Regions from separate parts of the Homo sapiens genome. Here regions 2, 3, 4, 5 and 6 are each linked to region 1. The links come from fine-mapping of genetic effects on gene expression. A gene starts in region 1. Each other region holds a variant in brackets. All regions are shown on one strand. Distances are between the middles of the regions. Region 1 holds the start of MGMT (O-6-methylguanine-DNA methyltransferase). Region 2 overlaps MGMT (O-6-methylguanine-DNA methyltransferase). Region 3 overlaps MGMT (O-6-methylguanine-DNA methyltransferase). Region 4 has its middle 76 kb from the start of LINC02667. Region 5 overlaps MGMT (O-6-methylguanine-DNA methyltransferase). Region 6 holds the start of LOC105378560 (a long non-coding RNA gene).

What was found. PIP is the estimated chance that this variant, and not a neighbour inherited with it, causes the effect.
Region 2: its variant is fine-mapped to the expression of MGMT in whole blood (INTERVAL, PIP 0.97).
Region 3: its variant is fine-mapped to the expression of MGMT in whole blood (TOPMed, PIP above 0.99).
Region 4: its variant is fine-mapped to the expression of MGMT in anterior cingulate cortex (GTEx, PIP 0.95).
Region 5: its variant is fine-mapped to the expression of MGMT in lung (TOPMed, PIP above 0.99). The same link has a PIP of 0.9 or more in esophagus mucosa, fibroblasts, skeletal muscle, subcutaneous fat, sun-exposed skin and testis.
Region 6: its variant is fine-mapped to the expression of MGMT in whole blood (INTERVAL, PIP 0.92).

Annotation. Positions count from the first base shown.
Region 1 is chr10:129,464,515-129,469,586 of GRCh38, forward strand. MGMT (O-6-methylguanine-DNA methyltransferase) reads left to right here and starts at 2,727. Exons shown (of 5, transcript NM_002412.5): 1 at 2,727-2,782. RefSeq lists silencers at 2,367-2,806, 2,827-3,026 and an enhancer at 2,593-3,515.
Region 2 is chr10:129,603,119-129,608,190 of GRCh38, forward strand. All of the region lies in intron 2 of MGMT (O-6-methylguanine-DNA methyltransferase), which reads left to right. Among named protein-coding and RNA genes, the nearest start is that of MGMT, 140 kb to the left of the region's middle. RefSeq lists enhancers at 1-218, 1-897 and silencers at 1,391-1,470, 1,551-1,640. The variant A/G (reference allele first, on the strand shown) is at 1,922.
Region 3 is chr10:129,653,941-129,659,012 of GRCh38, forward strand. The region is part of intron 2 of MGMT (O-6-methylguanine-DNA methyltransferase); the gene reads left to right. Among named protein-coding and RNA genes, the nearest start is that of MIR4297, 190 kb to the right of the region's middle. The variant C/T (reference allele first, on the strand shown) is at 2,620.
Region 4 is chr10:128,833,985-128,839,056 of GRCh38, forward strand. No RefSeq gene overlaps it. Among named protein-coding and RNA genes, the nearest start is that of LINC02667, 76 kb to the right of the region's middle. The variant T/C (reference allele first, on the strand shown) is at 2,838.
Region 5 is chr10:129,634,002-129,639,073 of GRCh38, forward strand. All of the region lies in intron 2 of MGMT (O-6-methylguanine-DNA methyltransferase), which reads left to right. Among named protein-coding and RNA genes, the nearest start is that of MGMT, 170 kb to the left of the region's middle. The variant C/G (reference allele first, on the strand shown) is at 2,149.
Region 6 is chr10:129,705,456-129,710,527 of GRCh38, forward strand. It overlaps MGMT (O-6-methylguanine-DNA methyltransferase), which reads left to right. Exons shown (of 5, transcript NM_002412.5): 3 at 2,440-2,588. It overlaps LOC105378560 (a long non-coding RNA gene), which reads left to right and starts at 2,595. Exons shown (of 2, transcript XR_946467.3): 1 at 2,595-5,072. The variant C/T (reference allele first, on the strand shown) is at 2,473.

The DNA.
Region 1 (5,072 bases):
GCGACCTCCCGGCTTTGGAGCCATCCTGTGTTCCTTTAACAGTAGGACGAACACACAGGCGATGATGAGATTGTAATGGGACAAGGGGGAGAGGCGTGGGGAGCTCTTGATGAAAACTTGGGTTTTTGAAATTACCATGATGAAGGGAGGAGCTTGCACCAGCAGGTGTAAGGAGTGTGAGTTTGAGTTCTGCTCATCAGACAGCCTAAGCAGTCACATCCTTGAATCCTGGTCTTTTGCAGGCCAGTCCTTGGTCAGGTGGTGGCCTTTTTCCTCTTTCCCCTCTGCACTGAGACCCTTATTTGGCTCCTGATCCTGGAGCCCCTGACACAGTCCTTACCACTGAAGTAGCTGTGGCCCTTCACATAGTTCTTCCCACCACGCCAGCAAGGGGACTGAGTTCTTTCAGTACAGCCAGGGCCAGGTCCACACATCTCCCTGGGAAGCCAGCACTTTCTCTCGTGGACCGCCTCCCCATTCCCACAGGGCCCTCCTAAAGGGCCTTTGGATGACCACATTGGCCTTTCTTTCCTAGGGTGGGGAATTAGAGATGCTAAGACTGGCCAGTCTCTTTTTCTTAAGAGTTTAGGGATTCGTCTTAAAATATTATTCAGATAAACGTATGAGTCATGTGTTAACTGCAAAACTACTTAACAGCACACTTGTTAGAATATCAGTCGGCACTCTGATTCCATTTCGGCATTGTTTTTCCTTTGGTTCTATTAAGATCCCGGTTCTAACTGGGTCCTGGTAGTAACAGGCTGTAAGTGGCCAGGTGTATAGCATTATTTCTTAGTAGTGTGGTGTGGTGCTGGTGGTTTATTTTCCCTATGCACACATGCCCTAATATGGAAGGATAGTTTGTACACACGTAGGGTACGTTATCATGAGACTCCTTTACAGAGTATGAAACTGAGGATTAGAGAAGTCAGACGAGTTTCCCGAAGTCTTATAGAAGGCTAATGGAAAAAACCAGAGCCAAGGGCAAACATGTTTCATCTGTCCTTCCACATTAGTTTAAATGTGAATGGCTGCTTGGAACACAGTGTTGAGAAGGATTCCGAGGCTGTGTCCAGGTTCAGTGGGGAAAAAGTGCCTTGATTTGACCATTATATCGTGTACTCAGGGCCTAGTTTATTTCCCACAAGCAGCTATTTAAAACATGTCTCATCCAAGGCAGGGTCGGGGTGGGGAACCTCAGAGGATCAATGATGCAGCCTGTATTGTCACCAGGGCTCATCCCAAAGCAAATCCTGCTGAAGTTCTCCTCTGAACAACCCTTATCACTCATGCTAATATGTTGGATCCTGCAAGTCACAAATACGAAGGTATGAGCATTGGCCGAATCCCAACAGGGAAACTTCACCGGGAAGGTGAAGACCCCTTTCCATTAAGATAACAAACAGAACCTAGAAGGCCCGTAGCATGGTGGCTTAGAACATGTGGGCCTTGGATGGGATCCTGCCAAGGGGTGTGTGACCTCTCCGAAGCCTCCAGGGATGATACTACTCCCTGGGGTGCTTATGCCAACCACGTTAGAGACAATGGTTTCTGTACCCATTGCCTGGGGCTGCCATAATAAAGTGCCACACACTGAGTGGCTTAAAACAACAGAAACCTATTGTCTCACACTTCCGGGGGCCAGAAGTTTGAAACCCAGGTGTGTTAGGATCCTGCTCCCTCTGAAGGCTCCAGGGAAGAGTGTCCTCTGCTCCCTCCGAAGGCTCCAGGGAAGGGTCTGTCCTCTTAGGCTTCTGGTGGCTTGCAGGTGCAGCCCTCCAATCCTCCTCCCCAAGCGGCCTTCTGCCTATAAGGACACGAGTCATACTGGATGAGGGGCCCACTAATTGATGGCTTCTGTAAAGTCCCCATCTCCAAATAAGGTCACATTGTGAGGTACTGGGAGTTAGGACTCCAACATAGCTTCTCTGGTGGACACAATTCAACTCCTAATAACGTCCACACAACCCCAAGCAGGGCCTGGCACCCTGTGTGCTCTCTGGAGAGCGGCTGAGTCAGGCTCTGGCAGTGTCTAGGCCATCGGTGACTGCAGCCCCTGGACGGCATCGCCCACCACAGGCCCTGGAGGCTGCCCCCACGGCCCCCTGACAGGGTCTCTGCTGGTCTGGGGGTCCCTGACTAGGGGAGCGGCACCAGGAGGGGAGAGACTCGCGCTCCGGGCTCAGCGTAGCCGCCCCGAGCAGGACCGGGATTCTCACTAAGCGGGCGCCGTCCTACGACCCCCGCGCGCTTTCAGGACCACTCGGGCACGTGGCAGGTCGCTTGCACGCCCGCGGACTATCCCTGTGACAGGAAAAGGTACGGGCCATTTGGCAAACTAAGGCACAGAGCCTCAGGCGGAAGCTGGGAAGGCGCCGCCCGGCTTGTACCGGCCGAAGGGCCATCCGGGTCAGGCGCACAGGGCAGCGGCGCTGCCGGAGGACCAGGGCCGGCGTGCCGGCGTCCAGCGAGGATGCGCAGACTGCCTCAGGCCCGGCGCCGCCGCACAGGGCATGCGCCGACCCGGTCGGGCGGGAACACCCCGCCCCTCCCGGGCTCCGCCCCAGCTCCGCCCCCGCGCGCCCCGGCCCCGCCCCCGCGCGCTCTCTTGCTTTTCTCAGGTCCTCGGCTCCGCCCCGCTCTAGACCCCGCCCCACGCCGCCATCCCCGTGCCCCTCGGCCCCGCCCCCGCGCCCCGGATATGCTGGGACAGCCCGCGCCCCTAGAACGCTTTGCGTCCCGACGCCCGCAGGTCCTCGCGGTGCGCACCGTTTGCGACTTGGTGAGTGTCTGGGTCGCCTCGCTCCCGGAAGAGTGCGGAGCTCTCCCTCGGGACGGTGGCAGCCTCGAGTGGTCCTGCAGGCGCCCTCACTTCGCCGTCGGGTGTGGGGCCGCCCTGACCCCCACCCATCCCGGGCGAGCTCCAGGTGCGCCCCAAGTGCCTCCCAGGTGTTGCCCAGCCTTTCCCCGGGCCTGGGGTTCCTGGACTAGGCTGCGCTGCAGTGACTGTGGACTGGCGTGTGGCGGGGGTCGTGGCAGCCCCTGCCTTACCTCTAGGTGCCAGCCCCAGGCCCGGGCCCCGGGTTCTTCCTACCCTTCCATGCTGCCAGCTTTCCCTCCGCCAGCTGCTCCAGGAAGCTTCCAGAAGCCCCTGCGCGGGCCTTGGCTTGCAGCAACCCTTTAGCATACTTAGGCAGAGTCCCATATTTCCTTCCTGCTGGAGGCCAAGTTCTAGGGGCCTTCTGGTTACTATGGCTGGTGTTTGTGTACATCATACCCTAACTGTATTCATCAACACTTAGAGTAAGCAAGGCTCGCTGGAGAGCCACACACACTGGGCACCGTAATGTCGGTTATAACACCGCAGAGGAGTTCTGAACTATGTATTTCGCACTCCTGGGTTCATCATCTCCTGAAATCTCAGGGTGGTGTTTGCTCTCAGTTGCTTCAGCTGAGTAGCTGGCTTTCTGTCCTGGAAAGCAGACTTTGTACATGTGTGTGCAACCTATGCCTGCTGAGATCATCATCAGACAGGGAAGCGGCTTGGTCCAGAGAGCTGTTCTCAGTAGAATGTTAAGCACAGAGAGCTGAGAATTAGACTGGTTATTTACATAGACATCCAAATAGAAACCTATAGAGTATCTGTTAAGTCAGGCTCTCCCGTCATCTCCCCCATCCCTGGGCAGGTGTCTAGGAGATGGTTTTGTTATTTTCAGGGCCCTCTCAATGGCTAAAACACTCTGGGAGATGAACAAGATTTTAAAAACCCAAAGCTTAGCGCACCTGGTGGGTGGGGGTGTGAAAACTTTGAAGGAAACCGCGTCAAGAGCCTGGCTGATTGTTAATATCACGTTAACTCAGAGGGCCAGGATACTTGCCCAGACCCGGAGTCTGCCTGCAAGTAGCAGAGGAGAGCTGGCCTTGCTCTGCCGCGTGTCTTTCTTCCTGGGCCCTCTGTCTCGGGTTGGAATTTGAATAGTGGAGTAGTGTCTGCCACAGTCAGGGGCCTGGATGAAGTAGACCACCAGTACGGAGCTATACTCAGGTACTTTTCAATGTATATATCTTCATTAAAAAAAAAAAATCTGGGCCAGGCACAGTGGGTCACGCCTGTAATCTCAGCACTTTGGGAGGCCGAGGTGGGTGGATCACCTGAAGTCAGGAGTTTGAGACCAGCCTGGCCAACATGGTGAAACCCAGTTTCTACTAAAAACACAAAAATTATCCAGGCGTGGTGGTGCATGCTGGTAATCCCAGTTACTTGGGAGACTGAGGCAGGAGAATTGCTTGAACCTGGGAGGCGGAGGTTGCAGTGAGCCGAGATTGCGCCATTGCACTCCAACCTGGGCGACGAGAGTGAAACTGTCCTGAAGGGGAAACAAAAAAATCTGTATCAAAATAAGGATTTAACTAATAGTATTAGGCACTACTTTAAAAAGGCTTTGCTGTTAGTAAGGTTGAAAGAAATAGAGCCCTAGGTATACATTGGGTAGCACCTTGTTCAGCTGCTCAGATTCTTGAACCTTGTTGAGGTCTTACTTTGATATCACCTGGGCCTTACTTTTCGTTGTTTGGGTTTCCTCCCCAGGTGTCTCAATCAGGGCCTCCTCTGTCCTTTTGCAGGGAAGAAGGGGGTAGGAAGGGCCTGAAAAAGAACTTGCCTTCCCCATTGCCCCCTCAGAGTTTGTTCCTCTCCAGTCCTCTTCCCACCCTTTCTTAGGACACCAAAACCCTGACTCTTTCAGTATTTTATAATAAAATAAAGTTACTAAATTGTCTGTTCTGTTTTGCAGAGGACACACATTTAGGAGCCAGTGATTCAGACCTTCCATTTTTCTTTTTGGTGCTAATGCTCTTTTCAGTATATTCTCTTTGATAGAAAAAAAATGGAGGCAAAACTGAATTTTCTGCATTATCTTTTCCTTTAGCATTATTCTTGTTTCTGCACTTCATTCTGACCCCCTTCCCCAGCATAAAGTTCCATGTCCAGATCCACTTGCCCTGAGATTTTTGACTTCCGTTTGGGACTCTAGTCCCTCCAGGGGACACATTGAGCCTCCCAGACCCTGCAG
Region 2 (5,072 bases), 140 kb after region 1:
TATTTATTGCACTATCAGCTAAAATTTTTAAGTGACAAGAACCAAAATAATCGTTAATTTTTATAGGGCAAGGATCTGGCTTTTTGTCTGACACAAAGCTGTATAAAAAACTGCTTCTGATTTTATGCACATTGTTTTTAGTTAATGATTTTCAGCTGTTTGTTGTTTCTCTGATAGCATGAAAATGTACCATATGCTCAGCCCAAAGACAGATGATTAGCAAGTGAGATTCCGGGCAGCTGTCTGACTGAGCGCGTTGGGTTGATAGCATTCTGCTATCATAATTAGCTTAAGCTTTGGGTTAATTAACTTTCTACCTGGATATGCATAATAATAGCAAACTGCAAAAAGCAAGAAGCTTTCAGTACATCAACAACATTGCTGTCTTTTTTATTTGGTATTTCAAGAGCATATTAGAATTTCAAGAGTGATTAATCCTGGGAATATTGTCATCTACTGTAGATTTTATTTGCAAGCCAGATAATACTGAAACAATTGGAATCTATTATAGAGCAGAAATAGCATTTTAAAATTGTAATTAAAGTTTCTAAAAGCAATTGCTAATTTCAAATGCCTTTGTTGGCAAGAATATTAGGCACACTGCTTCTTGTATGGGCAGCTTGTCGGGCACAAAAAATACCAGCACTTACACTGTGAAGAATAAAACTTTCTTTTATTTAAGGGCTGTATTGAAAATAATCAGTTATTTTTATGTAATTTGAAAGTAAGATTACTCTGTAGTTTGCAGAGGTGCTGTTCAGACTCCTAGATTGAAGATATTAACCCTGTGCCCTCTTGCAGGTTCTCACCTTTGTTACCTCCTGAGCAGTGGAGGGCTGGAGGCCTGGGTAGGAGTGCCTGGTGCCCTCTTAGAAGATTTGATGTGTGCGTGTGTCTGCGGGTGCCAGAGGTCAGATTTTTCAAAAGTCAGTGCTATACATTTGTAGCTTGATATTTGTTTTCTACCCCAAGCAGTTTCTAAATCAATTTACTGATGGTATGAAATGGGGAGAGGGAGGGCTTTGTCTCCATCCTCCTCCTTGTTTGCATGATTTACCAAAGCACTCTCTACGACGCTCATCATCTGAAGGGGCTGCCGGGGCCTTTGGAGAGCACAAGCTAGTGAAGTGGATGGTGGATTTGGAGTAAAAATTGTAGTTTACATTTCCCAAAGCACCAGAGAGCCTAGCACTTAATTCTGAAATAAGTCATGCCTGTTGTTACACTCAGAAAAATATTTTATCTTCTGAAAAAAAAATTCTTTACATATGCAGTGGATGGTGAAGATTTGGTGGCGGTGAATTTGCCCTGGCTCCAGAGGACTTTACTTACAGAATCAGCAGTCGTGAAAACGTGCTTTCTCAGATGTGTGACTTGTGGTCAGTCTGTGGGCTCAGGAGCACCCATTTGGTCAATCCATGCAAGTTTTATGGGGCTGTCAGAAGCCATTTTTCAAAATTGGCTTCATCTGAGGACACGTGGAGGAGCCACTCTCTTGGTGTGGGTAGTGAAAGGAGTGGCTCCCTGTGGCTCTGTCTTGGGAGTTGGGGGCTGCAGTGGTTCACTGGGAGGAGGGGGTGCCCCTGCAGGCCCCACCTGCACCCCACCTCGCCGCCCCACCCCCTCCCCCCGGCTTTCAGGCTGTGACCTCAAGGCCTTTTATCATTTTCACAATGATGTCTCCAACAGACCTTTACCCCAGTCTCAAAAAAGATACTGCCAGAGCCTGCCTTTGCTTTTTGTTTAGTCTGCTTCGGGCTGCGTCAATAAAGATAGCAGAGGGGTCAAGAGAAAAGAAGTGAACGGAATCACAGTTTTGGTGTTGAACCCTTAAATGGGGGCCCCACTGTCTCTGCTGTGTAGCAGGCACAGGATTATCTGTCTGCCTTCTGAGATTTCTTTTAATGTTTTACCAAATTAA[A/G]CATGAACAATTTCAGGATGCAAAAACTTGACTGCATCTTGTTGTTTCTTAAATAAGAGCACTTTAAGAAGGCAATATATGGAGATTCTTTTGTGGGAAAGATGTTTCAAATGGGTTATTACTGGCCATTGAAAGAAAGAAAAAGAGGAAATGCATCGAGGCCTCATTTTTTGGCCTGCACATTTGATTATTTTATTTTAAATGCCATTTCAAACATAGTGTAAACTAATGATATTATTTTTTAAAAAACTTACTCTACTATTTGCGGTCCTTGATCTTTAATTTCTTTTAATGTCAAAATTATTTATTTGGCCAGTTCCATTCCAGATGTGACTGTTGAGGGCACATTAATTTCTATTCTGTTTTCATGGGCCCCTGTCCCCATCTGTACATCATTTCTGACTTCCGTGTGCTCCCTAGGGAGTTCACTTATTCATATTGTAGGTTTCATTTGCTGTGTAAACAGAATAAACAGACAATGCAAAAATCCCCACAATACCAGAAAATAATTCTTTTCAACAACATAGTGGATCATATTTAAAAAAAAACATGGAAAATGCAATACATGTGAAGCCCATTTTTTCCACTTTATTGTCCTCCCGAGGAAAGGCTTGTGTTACCAGTGCATTTCCCTTGAATTTGATAAGTTCATTTTTATTAAAAATCCATCCCAAACAGCATTTTACGATAATTCTCAAACACGTGTTGTGGACATTTCTTTGTTTTGCGTATTAGCTTGGTCTTGCGGGTTAATTCGGAATGTGTTACTCAACTGGTATGTGCTTGCGTGGCCAAAAACACCCGTTGTGCTGTGTGTGTGTGAAAAGCAACATTCAAGAACGGTGATTTTTTTTTTTTGACATTTACAAATAAAGAGGGACATGAGTTATTTATGCTCCAATGTTGCTGCAAAGTCCTTATCTCCATTTGGCACTAAACAAGGATTTGTTGTGGGATTTGTGAGGGCTGCGCAGTGCCTCTGTGCTAAGCACCCAAAACTCTAGGGGACTGGCACTAATTTCCTCTCTCTCGTAAAACAACGTAGTATTCATAACAACTCAAGAGGCTTGACATAAGTAATGATGGCATGTGCAGGCGAAGATTACCACCCAACAGTGTAATCAAGGTGCTAGGTACTAATGCAAGTTAAATTGAGACAATAATGCCGAAACTTGCATTGTGGGATTAGGAGGGCACTTGAAATGCTGACGTGAGCACATCCTGCCTGCCTGCCTGTCTGGCGCTCCGTTCCTGTTTATACTTAATGACCTCAAAATTTGTATGTCGTTAACACCGTGTACTGAAGTGGGAGAGAACACGGTTTGGGAGGGAGAAGACTCCCTGTCTTCGTTGACTTTTGTCTCTTTTGGTAATTGGTGGCTTTTCCTGCCGTATTAGGGAGCAAAGCGTGCAGCGGGGAGGCCCCTGAGGTCTCTGTAAACATGCTGTGGGCACCGAGGGCCTCCGCACCCGGCGCTAGGCAGTAATTTACATACTTTGAATGAAAAGTCATTTGTGCCTGCAAAATTGTTATTGCTGGAAGAAATTTAAATACTAGTCATATGGAAATTTGAAATAAAGTCATATTAAATTTTGATGCTCAGATCAATATTGTGGAGCCCCGGTAATTAAAGTGGGTTTGTTTATTTGGCTCCTTATAAATAAAAAGGGCTTAATACAGACTAATTACACAGAATCTTTCGTCTACGGTGGGATAATAATGGCAGCAATTTAAAGTGATATTAAATGAGAATTAATAAAGGAATATTGAGTCACTTTGACTGTATTAAGCTGTGAAATGATTCCTCATCTCAATTTAACTTTCTGTCTTGAGCATAATGTTTGATAAGCAATGCATTTTTGTAGGAATAATCTATAACAGTATTTGACTGCAATATTTAATAACAACTAGACTTGTGACTTTATGTTGTTTTTAAATGGGCTGGGAAAGCCCGTTTTTTCTCTGCAAATTTATAGGACAACTTAGAGGGTTCTTGCCCTATGGTAGCTTCACAAGAGTTCTGAGTTGGCACCCTCCGGTTTGGGAGGTAGGTGGAGATGGCTTTGACTTTTGTTCAACTTACAAGGGAGTAACTTCTTGGAAGTGCAGTCCGGGCCAGCAGAAATGGTCATAGTAGGCCATGGTGGAAGGAGAATCAGAACCACGCGTAAATCCTCAGAAGGAAGAGGGCAGTCATTTTTTTTTTTTTCTCTTGGAGGAATATCCCGGGAAGAATTACCTGGAAGAAATCAGAGTGGTTTTGGAAGATGGATTGTCGGATAACATTTTAACTTAAGGGCTGAAGTTCCTTTCTACCTAAGTACCATTGAAGAAGTATGTTCCTGATCTTAAACATTTTTAATAGCAGTCTAGGCCAATTGACTCTGTGACCATTAAGTAATTTTCAAGTGGACTGGCTGCTGCCAGGGTGTTTGTGTTTTGCTTTGTTTTGTTTGCAGAGTAACTTGTGTGTAATTTCTTTCCACTGTGCCGCACAGCATGTCATGTCCACGTTAGCATTTCTGCCCTTTTAAAGGGTCCTGCTGAAGGTCAGGACCTCACACTGAACACCCTTTTTATATATATTACAAATTGCTGGAATTGTTCATTAATTTCTGTCTTTGAAATGCCATGTCAACCCTCTAAAGGAATTCGCAGTGCCAGTTTCCCTTGGACAGCTGCTCACCATGGTCCAGTGCGAATTTCTGATGAAATTACAGGTGCAGGGAAATGCAGAATTAGAAATATATCTGATGTTGCAATACTTGTGAAGCTATAGCTTTGTTGATGACAGGACAATTCCATTTTTGACAGTTTAATTTACTGTTGCCAGTGGACAAGAGCAAGAGGAGGACGTGGGGTTAGCCACCTGCCCCCTCGTACCGTGTTTCACATGCGAGGTTGCCAAATCATGACTCCCTCAACCTGTCGGGCTCAAATGAGAAGGTTTTCAGCTGGGAAAATGGAATATATCAGTGCATGTAATATTGCCTGACCTCATAAAACAAAAGGGAAAATTGCAGATTCTGACAGCCATTATGAATCTTGTATCAGCATCCAAAACGACTTGGAGCCAGGGTATAGTACATGTTTATAATAGAAAAAAAACGGGGTTGCCACGTTGACTTGCAATATGGAGCAAAAAATGAC
Region 3 (5,072 bases), 190 kb after region 1:
CCTTTGGGGATGCGGGGAGAACTTGGTGGCCCTCAGAGACCCCTGCTTGGAGACCCCACCTCCCCCTTGACAAGACTGCGGCCTGTGCTGGGCACAGCTGGCCCAGAGCGAGGGCCACACCCTACTACTGCACCCTCCACGCCTGTCTGTCCTTGCCCACCTCGGTGGCTGCCTCGCCGACCCCCGCCTTGCAGCTGGAGTAGCTGTGCTGATAAAGATGCAGGTGGGAAGCTGGATGGTGAGGTAGCCCATCTGTGGTTTGGGATCCGAGAAGACGGCAAGACCTCAGCTTCATGAGAAGAGAGACCTGAAGATCCATGCTGGGGAAGGGCGAGGATGGAAAGGGGTGCAGGGCGTGGAGCAGGTGCCCAGGTCGGGTACAGAGACAGGCCTGGGACCTGGAGGACCTGCACGCGGGGTCGGGCACCTGCCACACTCTCCCATGTCTTTGAAGCCTCTTGTGGTAGAAGAGAAGGTGCTCATATTTTACCTTCTGTGCCTTAGTATGTAGTTTGGTATTGTGTTAAGTGGACAGAAATCACATACCCCTGCTCACTCTGAGCCTGCATCCTTTGACCGTCACTGTGAACCTCAGATCGAGACACCAGCCTCAGCGGGGGCTGAGATAGGGCATTCCCCATTCCCACTGGCTGCTTGGAGGGCTGTGAGGGACCTGCTGCCTGGAGCACAGGGCCTGTATGGGTGGGTAAGTCCCTGGAGAGACAGGAGGAGGCAGGGGTGTGCAAGCCTCTTGAGGTATGAGGAAGGTGGCCGGGGTCTCGGGAAGCTTGTCTGGCCCTGGCAGGCAGGACAAGGGCCCCCTCCTGCCCATACCTCTACCTTAGGCCCCTTGTCATGACACGTGATACCTGAGGGTGGGGGGCTGTATGGGCATTTGGAATGTGACGGCACAAGCCACAGTGGGTCACTTGTTTCTACAAATGCCTGAGAAGAAAACTATTCTTCTAACTCAGAGAAGTGGGATTTCCCACTGAAAATCAGTGGAAATCACTTATAATGGTCTTTGCAAATTCCTTGCATCTAAGGAAGTGCCTGTGGAGCAGCAGTGGGAGGAAACCATTCAGGCTCGATGGAGAGGGTGACCGCTGCACCCTCATCCCTGGTGTCAGCACACTACCGAGGTGCTCCTGGTTTAAGGACGTTTGTGCACCCACCCGGAGGTATGCATGGAAAGAAAGCACTGCAGCCATTCCCCAGCCAGTGTAGGGGTGGGACACAGTCCCGTGGGGGCCCCGCGGAGGGCCTGGGCAGATGCAGGGCTGCGCACTGCCGTGGTTTCCTGTGTGTCTGCCAGGAGTGAAGACCTGAGCAGCCTCACTGGCCTGGTGTGGAGGGGCCGCCTCCGAGCATGCGGAGAAGTGGTTTGCATGGCTGGAAGTCAATGTTTATCTGTCTTTAGACTCAGTTGAAGACACATTTCTTTCACACATTACCATTTTTAAAACCCATTAAGGTCTGATTTTCCAAGGCGCTGACCCTGACGCTTCTAGAGGGCCTCATCCCGGAAGCTGGTGGGGAGAGCAGGAAAATCTTCCCCGTTGAGTTTTAAACGTCCAGACCTTTGTTGTCTCCTTGTGACCCTTGCAGGAGAGCTCTCGTGGCTTCTGTGCATGTTCGTGTGTGACTCGCCCGGCTGAGGGACTGGCATAAACAAACAGGGATGAGTTTGTAAAACACTTTGTAATCCCTTGAAAAGGAGAAAAATATAAATGAAAATCACTGTTTAACAGTGAAGGCAGGAAGGGAGCTGTTCCTCAGTATAGCTGTGGGTTGTCGTTACGTGAGCAGGAGGGAATTTCACTTTGGATGGATTTGGATTTTCTCTTCATGCTCATGCTCTCTAAATCTTGCAAAAGCACATGGTAAACACACAGCGCATGTGTTTCTGGAGGAAACGCACAGTGTCCATATAGAGCAGGCACTGATTTTGCACTGAAAGAACGTGGATGAGAAGTTCCACGTGTTTAAATAAACTGGCAACAGCGGTCCCAGATAGCTTAGCCGGGCAGCAGTCAGAGGTGCCCTGGCCTGGGGACTGAGCTAAGGTCTCAGAAGGGTCAGCTAGCCAAGCTCTTCACCGGACAACCCCTGAATTAACCAGACACATCACAGATGCAGACTGTTGATTCCAGGGAACCCAGGTGAAAGGCCAAGGAGAGGTGAGGTAGTTGGTGCGGTGCCCCTCCTGGAGTCCCTTCAGGACTATGGCACTACAGTTCTATGTAAGCTGTCACCCAGGACTCATCTTCAGTGGAGTCTGGACTGCAGTCGGGAGGTGACAAACATCCATGGCATGAGGGCAGCAAGAGCCCCTCTCTTGGGAACCAGTTGTGGCCACTATCTGCCCAGTGAACATGGGCTTCAGCCCCGAGCATGGGAGGGCTCCTGGTTGGGCATCTCCCTGGGAGTTCCTTGGTACTGCCTCCTGCAGGGTGAGGAGGGGTGGGGCCTACTTCCAGGCCTCTGGAAGCAGCATCGGCATGTCCTTTCTGGTGTGAACTCCAAATATCTGAGATGGTCTCAGTTAATTTAGAAAGTTTATTTTGCCAAGATTAAGGACATGCGCCTGTGACCCAGCCTCAGGAGGTCCTGATGACA[C/T]GTGCCCCAGGTGGTCGGGGCACCGCTTGGTTTTATAGATTTTAGAGAGACATGATACATCAATTAATATATGTAAGAAGTACATTGGTTCTGTCCAGAAAGGCAGGGACAACTCGAAGCAGGGAAGGGGCTTCCAGGTCACAGGTAGGTGAGAGTCAAGTGGTTGCACCGAGTTTCTGATAAGCCTCTCCAAAGGAGGCAATCAGAGATGTCTTTCTCTCTGTGAGCAGAGGGATGACTGAATACAACGGGAGGCAGGTTGGCCCTGAGCAGTTTCCAGCTTGACTTTCCCCTTTAGATTAGTAATTTGGGGGCCCCAAGGTTCTCCTTTCATGCTGGGAGGAGGGTTTTTCCACACGTCTCAGACCCAACTCTCGGGCTTCTTAACCCAAAAGAACTTCCACGCAGAAGGCAGCGAAAATAGTGCACTTCATTTTCTAAGACATCTAAAGCTGCCACAATGACTGTGAGTTAGGTGAGCTCTATGAATTAGGCTAGGGATTTGCAACCACTTAGCAAGTTCTAAGTAACTGTAAAAGATCCCATAGACTGCAAATTGTGTTTCATTTGGGGACAGATACCCTGTCTTGGGGATTTAAGTGTGTTTACCTGCCCAGAGTTGACACAGACGACTGTCCCTTAGCTTCCTTTCCTCATGCTGGTTTTAAGTGCTTCGAATCGGGATTTTCCTACCCATCTGATGCATTCCATTGAAAATTCAGGAATACACATGTATGTGACTGTTTATTGGCAAGTAATTGTGAAATAGGCCAGAAATCTACCAGCTTCCTTTAATTAATGTAACAAATACTTAGCAAGGACCTCCTGCATTCTAGGGATTGTGGGGGTGGGGGGGGGAGCAACAAACAAAACAGATAAACCCTGCCCTGAGGCGCCCCTTGTCTTGTCTGGGGGTGGAGGTGGGGCAGGCGTGAGACAGAAGAAACAGGTAAAATACAGTTCAAAGTCAGGTGCTGGTCAGTGTCTTGGAGAATTCTAAAGCAGGGAGGAGGGATGGGGTGAGTTTTAAATGTGGTGACTGCTGAAGAAATGGCCTCTGACAGCCTGGAGGAGGAGCTGGAGCTGGGGGGGGGACAGGCTGGCCAGCTCCTCCAACACACACACACACACACACACACACACACACGCACACACACACACACACACACCCCCTCTCCCCCAAGGACCCACAAGGACTGCGGCCTCTTAGCGTGTGTGGAGTCATCACACTGACCCTTAGCAGTGTGGCCTGACTTCATGAGGCCCCCGTTGTCATGGAGATGCTGGGAATGGGAGGATTTGCCACCCTCCAGTGAGGAGCCCCCATCCCATGAGTGCAAAGCCTGAACCGGCCCTTCCCTAATTGGCACCTCTATCCTATTTTCTTTGGCTGAGGAAATTCTCGTAAATGTATATTTAATGTGGTGTTGAGATTGGTAGTTCTCCCCCATCCCCCAAAGATCATCAAATCTCTGGGGGTCTTTCAAAACCTAAAGGTGATCTCCCTGGTCCTATTATGCTGTTTTGTTTTTGCTTCTTTTCTTTTTCTTGAAAGACCTAATTGTGGAGTTTTTTCCCCCTTCTATGAATCCCAAGTAAGGAACTAAAATGGAAGACGGGCTTCTGGCTCCCGCTGCAGCAGATGGGATAATTCTACAGGTGATTGCCCTGGAGGTCTGCAAGGGAGGGAGAGCGGCACCATTAGACTAACACAGCTCTATTATTGACTAATGACGAACAGCGTCGCCTTGCCTTGCCACCTTAAAACAGACACAGGGATTTGCTACTCTATTTGTTTTATAAAATATGCATTGAGAGCAACACCAAAATGCTGAATGACAGGTGACCCTCAGAGCACGCCTGGTATGCACTGCGTTAGCTTGCCAGTATTTCTTAGAGACTTATTTGATTCTAATTCAGTAGGATTTTTAACCCCAACATTTTGAAATCTTGCTTTGAAAGTCCATGTTATTCCCATTAACGTCAGTGAGTTTTTCACATATCTAAATATCTAATATCATGCTTTGAGAATTGAAGCCCAGCCTGCTCTTTAAAAGCAAGGGAGCTCACCACATCCTGGAGTTCTGCAGTGATTTGACATGTCCTGGAAGAAATTATCTTCGCAAGAAAGTAAGTTTAGTTGATTGAAATGAAATTAACACCACATTTCTGTGTCATAATGTATTAACCTGATTGGCTAGCTGGATTCCAGCCTGTTTACAAACATCCTGAAGCCTAGATGGCCCCTTCCTCAGTGTCCTTAACTGCTGTTCTCGCCCTTAGCTCGCGTGCCCAACCCTAAGGCTGAAAACGCCCCCTGTAGGCTACTGTAAGCTGTAGCATTCAAGGCCTCCCAGGTGTCGCTGTAATTTCTTGTATACATTTTAGCTCCATCTGTGGCATAGGTACCATTCAATGTTATCTTAATACACTAGCTTTGGATTTTGTGGCTG
Region 4 (5,072 bases), 630 kb before region 1:
AACCGAGAGAAAAAGAAGTAAAAAATTGGATTCCAGTTTTGGCACTTTCCAGTTCCATTTTGGTGAATACACTCAGGAGGCTTGAGGGAGCTTAGAACACGAGCTTGGAAAGAGATGCTCAGAGACCCATAAACAGACTGTGGCCATCAGGGAACATGGGGCAGTCAGCCTTCAGCTGCATTTTTTTTTTTCACCAAGCTTTTAATTTCAATAGGAACACAAGGCACTGATGGAGTGCTTTTGGGTCTCAACTGGTCTCAGATTTTTAAATATTAAGCCAAATACTCAATTTAATAATGCAGAAGAATTTAATTTTGAGTCCTGACTACAGATCAGTGTCGAATTCTCAAACAAGAAGAGGAGGTGGCAGGGGTAGAGGGGAGGACAAGAGCTATTGATGTGTTCCCAAGTTCTTCCAGCCTGGTCCAAACATTACTCCATGAGGGTGGGCCCCAGGGGCCTCTGGCTACACTTTCCCAGGTCTACCTCCCAGGCATTTTATTGCAAATGAAATAGGTTTCTAACCCTCCTTAAATCTATTGTACTCACTATAGCACAGCTGGGCAAAAAAATATTGGACTGTTGGGCCTCTGAGTGGCAGATGGCACCAGCACACTCACCTTGACAGGGCACGTGGAAACCTGCTCCCTCAGGGCCACAGGGAAATGATTTCCATTAAATAAAAGCAGAAATACCCTGATTAGAGGGCTATATGGTTAAACCCCAATAACAATTGTTTAGTGGTAATGACTGGAATTTAGAACTCTGTAACTTAAGAGCTTGGAGGCACATCTCCAAACAAATCAGCCTGCTCTTTCTATATTCCCTGATGGACCCAAGGCTTCGGGGACCCTTCATCAGGGAGATGGGTGGTCTCTTGCTCTTCTTCCCCATCTTTGGCCAGACTGATCCATGTGTGGTGTAGCCTAAAGAGCTCTGGGCTTAGAAGCGAGATGCCAGGTCCATGCCAATCCTCTCCAGAGTTCGCTGAGTTCTCCTAGCCAAGTTGTGCCATTTCTGCAGCCTCCATTTTACCCTGGAAGAGGAAGGGGGCGGCATGCATCATCTCTCTCATGCCTTACAGCTTGGACACGCCGACTTTTGGCACCCAATGATGACAAGTGGGGGCTATGCCCCTTCAGCCCAGGGCAGCACCAGGGCAGGTCAATCAACCTGATGTGTCACTCAACAGTGTATCCAAGACTGGGGCTTGGGGTAGTTCATTCCTCAAGTTCCGTTCAAGGTCTGTGTGTATATGATTCTTTAGGGGGAGATATGAAATTGACAGCACATTTTGCATCCTTTTCATCACAGGCCCCACTCCAAGCTCCAAATTTGCCTACTGCAGGGTGCTCAATCTCAGCCATCGAAGAGCCCTTCCTCTGTTCTTGGGGCAGCACCAGAATCCTGTGAGCTTGGTGACGCCAGAAGTCAGAGAAAGGCCCAGCTGAAAGGTCCTGGAGGCAAGTGGCTCTGCTGCTTCCAAGGAGTTTGGGCACAGGAATCACCCCCCACGCCAGGACCTGTGGTTGATGCCAAGAGTCCAGCCTCCCTAGTAGCCCCACCCGCTGTCCTCCAGCGAGGTCTTTCTGTCTCCCAGGGTCAGGGCAGGAGCCAAGCGAGTGTGGAGCCCCATGAATTGAGAAGAACTGCAGAGTTCCAGCTCCTCCAGTCATGGAGATGTTCCCATCTGCCCAGCATCTCCTGCTGCTCACAGGCAAGCTAGCTGCTGGTGCACTAAAGACTGGCAGGCAGTTTTTCTGAAACTTCTTTTGCTTTCTGCCCTGCACTTCGAATCAAAGGAACTGAAGCTACTTGCAAAACAATTAACCAACAATTCAGGGACAAGAAAATATCCACGATTAGCTCAGAAAGGTTTTTTGCTATATAGCCTAAGTCACTCTTGAAGTGCATAGGGACACAACTGGACACATCTCAGAGAACAGGAGGAGGGGGTATTGAAACTTCCCTGTAAAACACCAAAATAATAAATAAAGTACAAGATCATAAGTAAAATGACAGTGTAGGCTTTTATGTAGCAAAATGAGTTTGCAATATAAACTCATTCCTTTTTTGAAAAAGTCATGATTTTACATTCACCCAAAATATGATCGACTCAGGAAAGGACCATCAATAGAGACTAAAACCATCACTCATATATTGCTAATGGAAAGATGCACACTTATCATGAAAAAATATAGCAGTTCTTATCTTAAGCAGCCTCAGTAGTGATGGGGAAACCTGTCCTGTGCCCATGAAGTTCGACCACACGAAGTCCAGCTATTTTTGCCAAACATATTTACCTTGGGTCAAGCCTTTATACCTAACCTCTGTTTACAGGAGATTCAGAGGCTAGAAGAAAATGTTAAACCCCACCACATGGAAACCATCAGAGAAACTCTGCAGTGGGACTTTGCATAAGACAAGGCACCTGGTCTTTTCAAAACAACATCACACAAAAAATAGGAGAGACATGCTCTAGACAAAAGACACTCAGAAGTGACAACAGCCAGAAGCCGTTCATGGTCCTTCACTGGATTCTGTCTGAAAGAGAAAACCATCAAAGACATTTTGAGGAAAACTGGAGAAATTTAAGTATGGGCTAAATAGTAGATGAATTTAGGGAATTATTACTACCATTCCTACCTATGATAACGGTGTTTTATGTAAGAGAAAGTCCTTGTGTTTGGAAGCTGCATGCTGATGTGTTTCGGGAAGTGTGGCATGATGCCTGCACTCACTTTTAAAAGATTCAGCTGGAGCAATAACTTGAGATAAGCAAATGTGGGAAATACGAACAACGATCAGATGCATGAGACAAGTGCATGGATGATCAC[T/C]GTGCTACTCTTTCCGTCTTTCCCTATGATTACAGAAGTCCAAGGCAGCTTGGAAATATGAAGGCGTGCCTGGCTGTCTGGTGGGAACTAAGGGTCTAAGCCATGCAAAGCCCACGTCAGAATGGCAGGACAAAGGAAGCCGCTGTCGGACAGCAGGCTTCACACAGGTGAAAAATGAGTTTTACAACAGTACATGCCAAAGATCTTGGGGTTGCTGAGCCTAGCTTGATGGACAGATTGTGTTAGCTGTGAGATCATTGGTTATATTGATCAAGATCAAGGTAATAGAAATGCCAGTGGGAGCTGGCTCTGGAGTGTGGGTTTCCCCAGGAGAACACAGCAGACCTCCCAGAACCATGCATTTCTTATTAGCATATTCAGTGTGAGATGAAGCATCTTACTTAGTTTCGCATTTGATCTTTGTATGAAAGTGCTTTAAACAAAATTACACACACTGATATACCCCAGCATTAACCTTCCTAGAGGATAACTTTGTTCTGTGTTCAAAAGTATCAGTGGCTCTCCATTGCCTACTGAGGAAAACAAACTATTTAGTGTAGCGTTGTGGGCCCTCCCTGATCTCCCCAAACCACCTTTCTAGCCTTCTTTGCTTTAGTTCCTTACTGGGCCTGTGATCAGCCATGCTGGGCCGCTTGCCATTCTTCTAAATTCAGCTTCTGTTTCTGAACCTTTGCAGGTTTATTCCACCAAGAAAGCACTCCCATCTCCATCTCTCTGGAGTTAAAGCTGCCTGGGACGGAATCCAAGTTTCACCATTGATTGGCTGTATAGGGAAGTCACTTCAACCTCTTTAAGCCTCAGTTTTCCCTTCTGCATAATTAGCTTAATGCTGACTTCACAAAATGGTTGTAAGGATTAAAAGAGATAAATACCATGTGTCTGGCTTTGGGCTAATACATTTACATATAAGGACTCAATTAATGTTTATCTATCTATCCATTCATCTATCCATCTACCTATCTATCTCTCTATTGCATCATCGTCATCATTAATCAGTATTCAGTAAATGTCAGGTAAATGAATAAATAGAATAATATTAGATAAAAGAATATTCAAAGGCCCCGACTGTGTAGTGATGCCAAGCCGAATCAAATCCAGGAGGGTCCTGTTCTGGATCCACGGTGCCCCAGATTGAACCAGGCTGATTTCCTGGGCCTTGATTCTAGGGGCTCCTGGCAGCACAGGGTGGAATGCAGGGCAAGCAGGACATCCTCTGAGGGGCTAGTTAAGGTGAACCTACAGAGGATCATTGCAAGGAGAACATTATCTGTCCCACTCTCCACTGGTTCCACAGGAGGGAATCCAAAACCTCAGCTGGGTCCCAGTCAGGGAAAGACAGAGGAAGATTCCTTCCTAACATCTGACCTTAACCTTGGACCCACATTTGGAGAATTCCCTGAACTCACTGTCTCCTCCCACCTGGCTCATCTTGACTCCTCCCTTTTGCTTTGAGAAGTCTTCCTGGATGCCTCTGCCAGGCTGGACCTCTGTGCTCCCCTTCCTGGCCCCATAACACCTAGTCCTTCCCTCCAGCATAGCTCAGTTTGTCTTATTTGGAAACACTGTGCTTCTCTGCTTCCTTGCAGCACATGCTCCTTGAGCCAGGAGGCTGTGCGTGGCCATCCACCCAGTATTTAGCACAGGGCCTGGCACACGGCAGACAGTAAAGGACCATTTGTTGAATGGGCAACAGTTGGCAACAGGCACACAGGAAGTATCCCCGGATGGTGCTGGTGACGTTGATGATAGGCCCACATCAGCACAGCCAAGGCAGCATAGCCAAGCTTACTTGGAAGCATCCAAGATGAAGCCATCTTGGGAAAAACAAAGCCACAATGAGCACTTAACACCTGGCCAGTAGTGGGAGGAGTGAATGAGTATCAGTTTGCCATCGCTCTTCAGGGCAGCCTGGTGGGAGCCAGTGCCACCTCTACCACCAGGGCCCAAGTGGCTGGCAAGTGTTCCCTCATGCATCTGTGGGCTGGTAACATCACGGTGAGGCCAGGCTGCTTCAGGGCCATTTGCAAACAGATTACCCTCTAGGTGCCATATTCCAAGTGAGTGGAGAGCAAGTCCACAGCTGAATACAAAAGCGACATGTTTCCTTTTGTTCTGCTTTCCCTTCTCTGTAAAACTCACCACTTTTCAAATCAGACATGGATGAAGCTCTGGGGCTTGGCAAACTTAGGGAACATAAAGTTTGCAGAGAATTGT
Region 5 (5,072 bases), 170 kb after region 1:
GTTTCCTTCACCCTTTCTCATTGCACTGGTCTACTGCAGGTGACTTCTTACAGTTTTTTAGTGCCCAAAATGTCTTTATTGCTTCTTGATTGTTGAAAGGTATTTTCACTGGGTGTAGAATTCTAGATTGACAGGGTTTTTTTCCTCCCAATACTTTACAGATTTTGCTACACTGCCCTCTTGCATGCATTGTTTCCATTAAGAATTCTGCTGTCATCCTCATCTTTTTGTGCCTCTGTGTGACATGATTTTTTCCTCTGGTAGGTTGTAAGGCCCCTTATCAATTTTTTGAACAATTTTATTGTGATGCATCTTGGTGCAGTTCTTCATGTGTCTTTTACTTGGTTTCACTGTCCATCTTGTATCTGTGCATTTGCAGTTTGCATCAAATTGGAAAATATTTTGGCTATTTCTTCAAATATATTTTTTTCCTTTTCCTTTCAGAAACTCCAACTACAGATATGTACGATTTCCTGAAGTTTTTCAAAACCTCACTGATAATCCTTCCTTCCTTTCTTCCTTCCTTTTGATTTCCTTTCTCTGTCCTCATTTTGTGTAGTTTCTATAGGAATATATTCAAGTTCACTAATTTTTTCTTTTGCAGTGTCTAATCTATTATTTTCATTTGATGTATTTTTCCATTGTAGGTTTTTTTAGTTTTTAATTCTGAAAGTTCTCTTTGGATCTTTTTTTTACTATATTCTATAATTCTAATTAACTTTTTGAATGTCTGGAATACAGTTACATTAACTTTTTGCATCCTCGTCTGCTAATCTTAACATCTGAGTTAGTTTTAGGTCCATTTCAATTGACTGGTGTATTTCTTCGTAATGGATCATATTTTCCTGCTTCTTTGTGTGCCTGGTAATCTTTGATTGCATGTCCAGTATTGTGAATTTTACCTTGTTGAGTTCTGGTTATTTCTGCATTCTGATAGATTTCCTTGAGCTTTGTTCTGGGATACAGTCACAGTTAAATTACTTGGGAATAGTTTGACTCTTTTGGGTCTTGCTTTTAAGATTCGTTAGGTAGAACCAGAGCAGTGTACTGAGGCCAGCCCCCTTTTCAGCTCGCCCCGGATGGTCTGTGAATAGGAGGCATTCCAGTGTGGCTGTCAGGAAAAGTCATGCTCCCAGCCCTGCAAGAGCAGCGGTTACCACCCTGTCATCCTCACAGATAGCTCTTTTCCTGCCTGGGGGAGCTTCCTGACATGGCGGTGCCCATCAGTACTCTGATGAATATGTGAGGGTGACCTGTTGCAGATCTCAGGATTCCTCTTTCTGAGATGTGTCTCTGTCCCTCCAGTTCTGTCCTGCAAACTCTGCCTGTCCTGGTTTCCGGGCTCACAGCTCCATCCCCTCAGTTTGGGAGCTGGCCAGGCCCTTCCTGTGTGCCCCTCCGGGTGCCCGGAACTCTCAGGGCAGTCGCAGCCTTTTCTTCCTTGGTTTTCTGTCACTCATCTGTCTCTGTACTTTGCTCTCCAGTTTCTTGAAAAGTGTGTTCTATTTAATTTATTTTTTCTTTTTGGTTCTTTTTGGTGAGAGGGTCAATCTTGTCTCTTACTTATTTTATCTTGCCTGGAAACAGAAGTGCTGGGGTGTTTTTTAAAAAATAATTGTAAGATACATAATTTAAAGCTGTGCTATTATAGTATTTACATGAAGTTTTAAAAAGAAATTTGCTTCCCCTAAACTTTCTGATCATCGATAGCACTTTTTGAGGCAGGGAGCCACTAGTGGTCACCTATGTCTGTTAGCAATAGACAGACATGTCTGTTACTTCCAAAGGACTCTCACAGTGTAAACTGAGGACCCTCTTACAAGCTGGTACGGGAAGACCAGGCCTGCATCTGTCAGAGATGAGAATAAGACAGATTCTCCTAATCAAGCTGCAAGGAGCTCCTGCTGTAATCACTCCAGAATATATATCAAGAGTGGATGTGTGTTCTCTATGGCAAAAAACAGGCACTGGAAAATTTACATATTTTTAGTTTAAAATATGCATGCTCTTGGCCAATATGTTTGAACTGAAAAAAGATAGAATGTGGTTTTCTGAGTTATCTTCTTTTTCTTTTTTCTCAAGTTAGTTAAGATTTATAAGGTGCTTACTCAGAAATTCATGGATGAAGTACAACGTTCACCTTCACAA[C/G]ACTTTGCTCTGGTTACAAATTTTTGTGGTGTAGAAACCCCCAAAGTGCCTCGTATTTTCTCACCCGAGTCCAGCCGGAGATACTGACCTTGGTCTAGATCGTCACCTCTGAACCATTCCTGAAGAAGTGGGTAGACACCCCCTCAGGACTGCTGTAAGAGTGGAACACATTCACGTATAACCAGCACAGAGGTTAGTATTCAGTAAGCACTCAATAAATGTTGGCTCTGAAGAGATTCTTCTCATTTGCATCATTGAAAAGGGGTCTTTGCAATGATGCTTATAGCCCAGTTTGGGGTGAATCATACCTCTAAGCAACTGTCATTGAAAGAAGGCCTTAATGCTGATAGTCATTGTTTCAGTTTTACTTTTTATTTCTTTGTCTTGGCTCTCTGGCTAGGCCTTTAATACAGTTTTGAATAGAAGTCGTGATAATGGGCATTCTTGTCTTGTTACTAAATTTAGAGGAAAAGCTTTCAGCATTCCACTGTTGATTTCCTGTGAACTCTATAGATTGTTTTGTGGATACCCATTTTCCCCCAGAATGAAAGATCTTTTTGAAATTATATTATTCTTTCTTTAATGAGGCCATTTTCATATTTGCATTTATGAGAAAATGTTTAAAAAAGTATGTGAACATAAATTATATAATCTTTTGAGTCAATCAGAATTATACAATTGAAAAATAGTCTACAATTAATGATATTCAAGTATCTTTAGATTTTAAACTCATTAAATGAACATTGAAAGTTCTGTTTTCTAATTATAGAGCCGAGTTTAAATTGACAAGAGCAGCCACACTCGAGTTGTCTAAGTCAGAGGCTTTATAAACCTGTTGGATTTTCCAAGGGTTGCTTCTCTTGAATAAAGGTGTTTTTGTTTCTCACATATTTTACATTTTCAATGACCTGTTTAGGCAGAAGCACCTTTTGTCACTAATTAGTGTGGTGTGACAAGTAACATAATGCGTATCTGAAAAGCTCCACTGGGTGTAAGTGGAGTTCACACCTCTTAATGAGTGCCTTCAAGAGTGTTTTTGTCATTCCCAGGGAGAACTAGTGCCCCTTGAATAGAAAACTGCTGTAAATGGAAAAAGGATGTGTCTTAGGAGCCTGGTGTAAGTGCAGATGGGCCCACCCTGTCCTCTGACTTTAGGGCCTTCCTCAAAGCCAAGGCCCTCTTGTGCGATGGGGCTCTTCTCCTTCTTAGAATTCCTACATCCAGAGTAATGGAGACGACTTGGGATCATGCTTCAGGATATATGTAGGTGCTCAACACAGGCTGGTTTCTGTTTTTAATTTCTGGCAGAATGAACCACTTGAAAATGAATTTTCATTACGATTTTAGGAGGGCTGAGAGTAGATGAGGTAAGAGATCTGCCTAGGGGGCAGGATCGAAGGAGGCTGTCACTCTCAGATTTGTGCAAGTGACTTGTGTTCCCCAAATTCACATGTTGGAGCCCTAGCCCTCAGTACGTCGGAGCGTGACTGTATTTGGAGATGGGGCCTTTAAGCAGGTACTTAAAGTTAAATTGGGGTTGTTAGAATAGGCCCTAATTCAGCCTGACTAGTGTCCTTATAAGAAGAGGAGATTAGGGCACAGATATACCATAGGCTTCTGTGCACAGAGATGACCATGTGAAGTGGCAGCAAGGGGTGGCCGTCCGCAAGCCAAGAAGAGAGGCGTCAGAGAAAATCAACTCTGCCAACACCTTGAACCTAGACTTGCAGCATCCAGAGCTGTGAGAAAATAAATGTCTGTTCTTTAAACCACCCGGTCTATGGTATTTTGTTATGGCAGCCTGAGCAAATTCATTCAGCAAGTGCCAGCCTTGCACTCGCGGGAGAGTGAGTGCCTCCTGCAGTGCTCAGTCTGGTCTCAGGCTGAAATTCTAGGTAGATGCACATTTTCCCAGTTGGCAGGTGCTGGCTCATGCTGAAGGGGAACATATGCTCAGGATTCCTGCTTTATGTACTTCAAAAGGAGACATGTGACATGTTTCACTTAACTTCATCTAAATTTCCTAGACACACCAATCTGTAACGGTTTAGAACTCAACCCGGTGGTTATACAGCTTTCCTGAAGTGGAGAGGTGGGCTACTTATCTTGTATGAGTCCCATGAGAACTAAAGAACAATGGTTCAAAAAACAGATGGATGTCTCCCATCTTACATTCCCTCCAGGAAGAAGTAGTTGAAGAAATAATGGATATAAATTTCCTTGAATTAAGAACACATGAAAGACTTAAGAATAAGAAGTCCAAGAGAGGACCAAAGAGGCAAAAAAAAAAAAAAAAGAAAAAAAAAAGAAAAATAACTGACGTCTATCTAGAAGAGCACAGTGAAATTTAAGAATAGAGAGAAAAATCTAAAACATTAGCAAGAACAAACAACACATATAAAGAACCAGTGGTCATATTGGCTTCAGATTTGTCAACAGCAATATTGAATGTAAGAAGAGAATGGAGGCATGTTTTCAGCGTATTAAAGGAAAATAACTTAGAACAGAGTTTTATATGCAGCTAAAACTTTAAAATATGAGGGCTTGGCAAAACTATTCTCACAAGGCCTCAAAAGTTACACCTTAACAATTATAATAAATGTAAATGAACTAAACTCACCAGTAAGAAAAAGACTGAAAAATGGAATAAAATATAAAATCCAAATATACGCCACTCAAAGGTTATCCAAAGTATAAGGACTTTCAAACTTTGAGGGTAAATGGATGGAAAGAAGCATGTCAGGAAAATACCCAAAGAAAACTGGCATAGCTATAATGATATGTAAAATAGATTCTAAGACTAACAGCCTTGTTAGAGATAGAAAAGGTGAATACACAATAACAAAACAAGTAAAATAGATTAACAGAGTAAAACATAAATGACAAAAATAATTTGTATTCTTGAAAATATATAGCCATGGAAG
Region 6 (5,072 bases), 240 kb after region 1:
AGCTATAGTTATCTTTATTTCCGCTTTAACTGCATAAGAGAGGAAACCTTTTTAACTATAAGGAAGGTGTTCGGCTTCCTTTTATCTCTTGCCTCATTATGTACTTTTGACTTTATTCAGATTTGTACAAGCTTGGTTTTTACCTCACAGGAAAAGCGAGAACTAATCGCTCCAGAGATCATCTGAGCTCTTTGTGTGAAGGTGTTTTAAGAAGTTGTGACTACATCTTCTTTTCTAAAACAGCCTCCAATTCTGTGATACAAAGTGAAATGCCAGTTGTTTGCAGCTCCGGGGCTGTGGTCCTCCTGGACACCAGCGGTAGCAACAGGCCCCATCCACACAGGGCTGGGGAGACAGGTCCCCTTCTGCACGGGGCCCAGGAGACAGGCCCTCATTCATACAAGGCCAGGGAGACCAGCAGAATCAGCACGGGGCCAGGGCAACAGCCCCATCCACACAGGGCCGGGCAGACAGGCTGAATCCGCACAGAGCTGGGGTTGGAGCTGAGAGTCATCCCTGACCCCAGCTTCATGGTCCTCCAGCTCTTCCCTGCACCATTGCCATGTTCTTACTGCTGCAGCCCTGCGTCAGGGCAGCTGCGGTGCCTTCTGCCTCTTGCCAGGGGCCCCCAGCCCCCACCAGTCACACTGTGGGCCGCACTCATAGGACAAAGTGCCCTTCCCGCCCTGACACGCACAGTCCTTGCCCACCTTTCTGTGAGTCTCAGTCCCCGAGGCCTCCACTCTGCGTCTACGTTCACACTGTCTGTCCTACGTCCGGGATGGCTCTGTTGCCTCCTCTCCATGGACTGGCCGTGCATACCTTGTGTGGACAGAGTTGGGACGGTGCTCCCGGCTGCATCGGCCGCCTGTGCTGGGCCACATGTCCAGGCAAGTGAAGCCTTCACTGGGACCCTCCCAGAGCAGCATGGGTGTGTCGAGGAGAAACATTCTGTAGATCTCAGCGCACGCCCCCCAAGGCAGCCCAGGAAGGAAGGGTGAAGGGCCCGCGGGAGCTGTGCGTCCACAGCATCCACAGTGCAGTGACGTTTCCCACCTTTTCACAGAAGCCTGAGGAGCAGCACTGTCTGCAGAAGGAAACTAGAAAACTTCCGTGCTCCAAGCCTGGGAAGTCCCGGGGAAGCATGCCGTTTGTCTGGGGCCTCGAGAGGCAGGGAAGGAAGGAAGGGAGTCACCTGAAGAAATCGGACCCAGGGCCAGGGCTTCCCACGGGGGTCCACAGCACTTGAAATCACAACGGGATGTGTCATGCACTCCACAGCCCCAGGTGGCAGCGGGAGACCTCCCCTTCAGGGCCATGTCCTCAGTCCGTGGAACACAGCCCCAGAAAATCCACCCCTGCTGGAGATGGGGAATCCTTTCCATGAGGGCCCACCAGGTCGAAGCCACAGATGAATGAACACCCCAAACAGAAGCAGCCACAAAACAGTCTGAAGCGACTCCCAGAGGTACAGGTTCAAACTGCAGGAAATCAAAGGGAGGAGAGTGTCCAGAAAGAACCAAGAGGGCCGCGCAGTAGCTCACACCTTTAATCCCAGCAGTTTGGGGGGCCCACGCGGGCGGATCACCTGAGGTCAGGAGTTCGAGACCAGCCTGGCCAACGTGATGAAGCCAACATGGAGAAACCCCATCTCTACTAAAGATACAAAAAGTTAGCTGGCCGTGGTGGCAGTCGCCTGTAATCCCAGCTACTAGGGAAGATGAGGCAGAAGAATCACTTGAACCCGGGATATGGAGGTTGCAGTGAGCCAAGATCGAGCCATTGTACTCCAGCCACGGCAACAAGAGCAAAACTCCGTCTCAAAACAAACAAACAAACACCAGGAAGGTTTGAGAAAGAACCAAGTAGACACAGGCACACGAGGCACAGGGCTGCCCCCGAGAGGACAGACTCACCGATGAAGGAAACACAGAGTAGGCCCTCTGGAGCGTGGGAATCAGGGGACTGCAGGTAAACCCTGAGGAATCCCCTGAACACAGCACACGGCCATGGAGGAGGCAGAACGCGTGGATGTGGCCTTGCGTTGTTGGACTCGGGGTGGGGTGGGCCGTGTGGTGCAGTCTAATGACTGTGTCGATATTTCTGGGAACTGTTTTCAATAGTGAGTGCTTGATGATTTAGGTGCAGCCGTGCCATCTGTAAGTCTTACAAAGGGACACTGTCACTTGGGTTGCCTTGCGCTGTGATGCAGACTCTCAGAACACACGTCCTGGGAGGCCTGAAGGTGGAGAGTGGTTGCGGGGCCTCGGTGCGTCCTTGCCTCACCAGTCCCCCTTTCTGCTGCACAGCTAGTTGAGACGTGTGTGCCCATGAAGCAGCCACAGGTGTTTGCCCGTTTAGATGCAGTAGGTGTTTGCTTTTCCGATGTGTGGAGGCAGGGCCCAGAGGTTTACTAAGCCCCTGTTCTCACTTTTGCAGTGCCGTGGAGGTCCCAGCCCCCGCTGCGGTTCT[C/T]GGAGGTCCGGAGCCCCTGATGCAGTGCACAGCCTGGCTGAATGCCTATTTCCACCAGCCCGAGGCTATCGAAGAGTTCCCCGTGCCGGCTCTTCACCATCCCGTTTTCCAGCAAGGTCGGTAACTAAGCCATCTGCGGTGTTTCCTTTGGGGAGCTTGACTTATTAACGATCGCTGACATCACAGTTCATTTTATTGAGTATACCAACTTGGTATTTTTACATCAGCTAAACAGAGGCAGCGTTTGGCCGAGCTGGAGGGACGGGGGTTCGCCGCCTCCACCCACTCCAACACTTGTGTTAGTTTTGGCACAGGGTTGCATAATTCTTGGCAAAGGCAATAAAAATGAAGCATGCAGATCGACTCTTGACTCTCGCTGGCTGAAAGGTTTAAATAGGAACACATCTGAATGGCAGTAAATTTTTCAATAAGCTTATTGTGAACTTCAACTATCTGCTTGCCAACAGCACAGAAAACGAGACTTGTGCGTGGACATTTAGCTATTTCCATACACTCTGTTGGTGACACTTACATCATAGCAGGTAGCAGCATTGGAGCTTCTCAAATAATTTTACATTTAATTTCTCAAACGTACCAGAGTTAGACATATTCTTTCTTAAGAGATGACTTGAGAACTTACCTGTATGTAGCCTGCTTAAGGCTTGTGATAATCTAAAACATTTCCCAGACATTTCTTTTAAAGCTTGTGTTTGGCTCTGCTCAATACAGAAATTAATTACAGCAACTAAAATCATTCCAGACACATGCCAGAAATTTATTTTGCATAGTGAGTTTTTCATAATCATTTTTGTGTATAAATGAACATATATTCATATATGATGTATATATGGAGTTGTACACTTATATATCCTTAAAGGGAAAAATTACCTTGAGATTTTAGATGTGGTGAATTTAAAGCAATTTTGAATTTCAGATCAGATTTGCTGGGTAAGCTTAACAGTATTCTAATTGCTGCGGTGCTTCTCAGCACAAAACAAACTTGAAAATGGAGAGAACTTTTCAAGGGAAGCAGGTAAAGAAACCCCTGAAGGTTGGGCTAATACCTGAGTTCACTAACCAAGTCAGACAGGCGAACATATGAAGTCATGAGCACGTTTTGTGCATAATGAACTGAAGCTGTGCAGCTATAATGAACCAGGCACCTTGCTGTCCTCTGAATCATACAGAACTGTCTCCAGAAGGGTTCAGTGGGGATCTCTAGGATGGGCAGATAGGAAGCTAGAGTGGGTGGGCCTTTACATGGAACCACAAACGTCCAAGAAACCTCTCATCATCTCTGCCCACCAATGGGCTGCTGCCAGGACAAAGGCACTACCAAAGCCTCCTGGGCTGCCGCCAGCTGGGGGCCACCTCTCCCCAGCGCCACAAGCCAGTGAGCCAATTAGACGGTGTGGGGGACCTTGCTCACTGTGCACCTGATGGGCCGGGCACAGGGCAGGATGTTGCTGAATGGCCCAAGGAAGTCAGAGATTGGTTTTGTTTATTAAAGTTGGGGCTTGGGGATCTTAGAGTGGTGAACTCTTCTCTATACGATCTCTTTTTGGGGGTTCGCCTGCCAGGAGGAGCAAGGCTGAAGAGCTGTCCAGAGGCTTTTCTTCTCCTTAAGCCTGTGAAATATGTGAGCTGAAATGTAAGGTCTCAGGACAGAAAAGTTCTCTTACAAAACCAGGGCAGGAGGTATCTGCATAATCATATGGAGGCTGGGAGAATGAGCCTGCAAACCCCTGAAGTTTACCTAAGGTTTGTTGGGCAACTTCATGAAAAACATAGGGGCAAAAGTTCCATGAAAATCGTTAGTTTTCTCCAAGTCATATGGTGGCCCTGGCCATGGAGCTAGACCCTGCTGGCCTGGTCTCACCAGGGTCCAGAGAGTGGTGTGCTCTCAGGCAGGCCAGGAAGAACCGGAGGAGGAGGCCTCCGCAGCTGCTGACAGGAGCTCCAGGGCAGGAGTGGCCAGCAAGGAAGGTGGCACCGGAAATAATCAGACACTCTCCAAACCACCCCTGCAAGCACTGAACCCCCGCTGAGCCTTTTCCCCCTCACTTCTGCCCATGGCAGTGTTTGCTGCTCCTAGAGCCGAGGACAGGCGGGCCCCTGGGGCTTCTCAGTCAAGTCCCTAGTGCTTAAGCAGAGTTGGGATTGGCCACACCTACCCCTGCCTCCCTGGCTTTCAGCCCACGCCAGGCCAGGCTGCTTCCTGGGCTGGCAGGTCATGATAGGTCTTGGTGACCAGGAAGACCTCAGAGTAGCCGCCAGGATACTGGTAAAGGCTGTCTGGCTCCCCCGTGGCCCTGCCCCTCTTGGAAAGCCCTACAGTGCGGGTGGATACCTCTAGCTGGGACGAGGTCCACTCCAGCCAAGTTTTGGGATGGTAGTGCGACAGCCGCTCACATCCTTCTCTCTTGGTGTTCTAGAACTCTGAGGCTGGCTGCAGACCCAGGGTGCTGAGCTCAGGGCCTTCTCTCGAGGGTAGGGGCTGGAGTCCCCTGGGCCAGGCCTGCCTGCGGATGGTTAGTGGTTGCTGTGGGGGCTGGGATTCCCCACCACAGCATGTGTAAGCCAGGTTTTTAACATTTAGC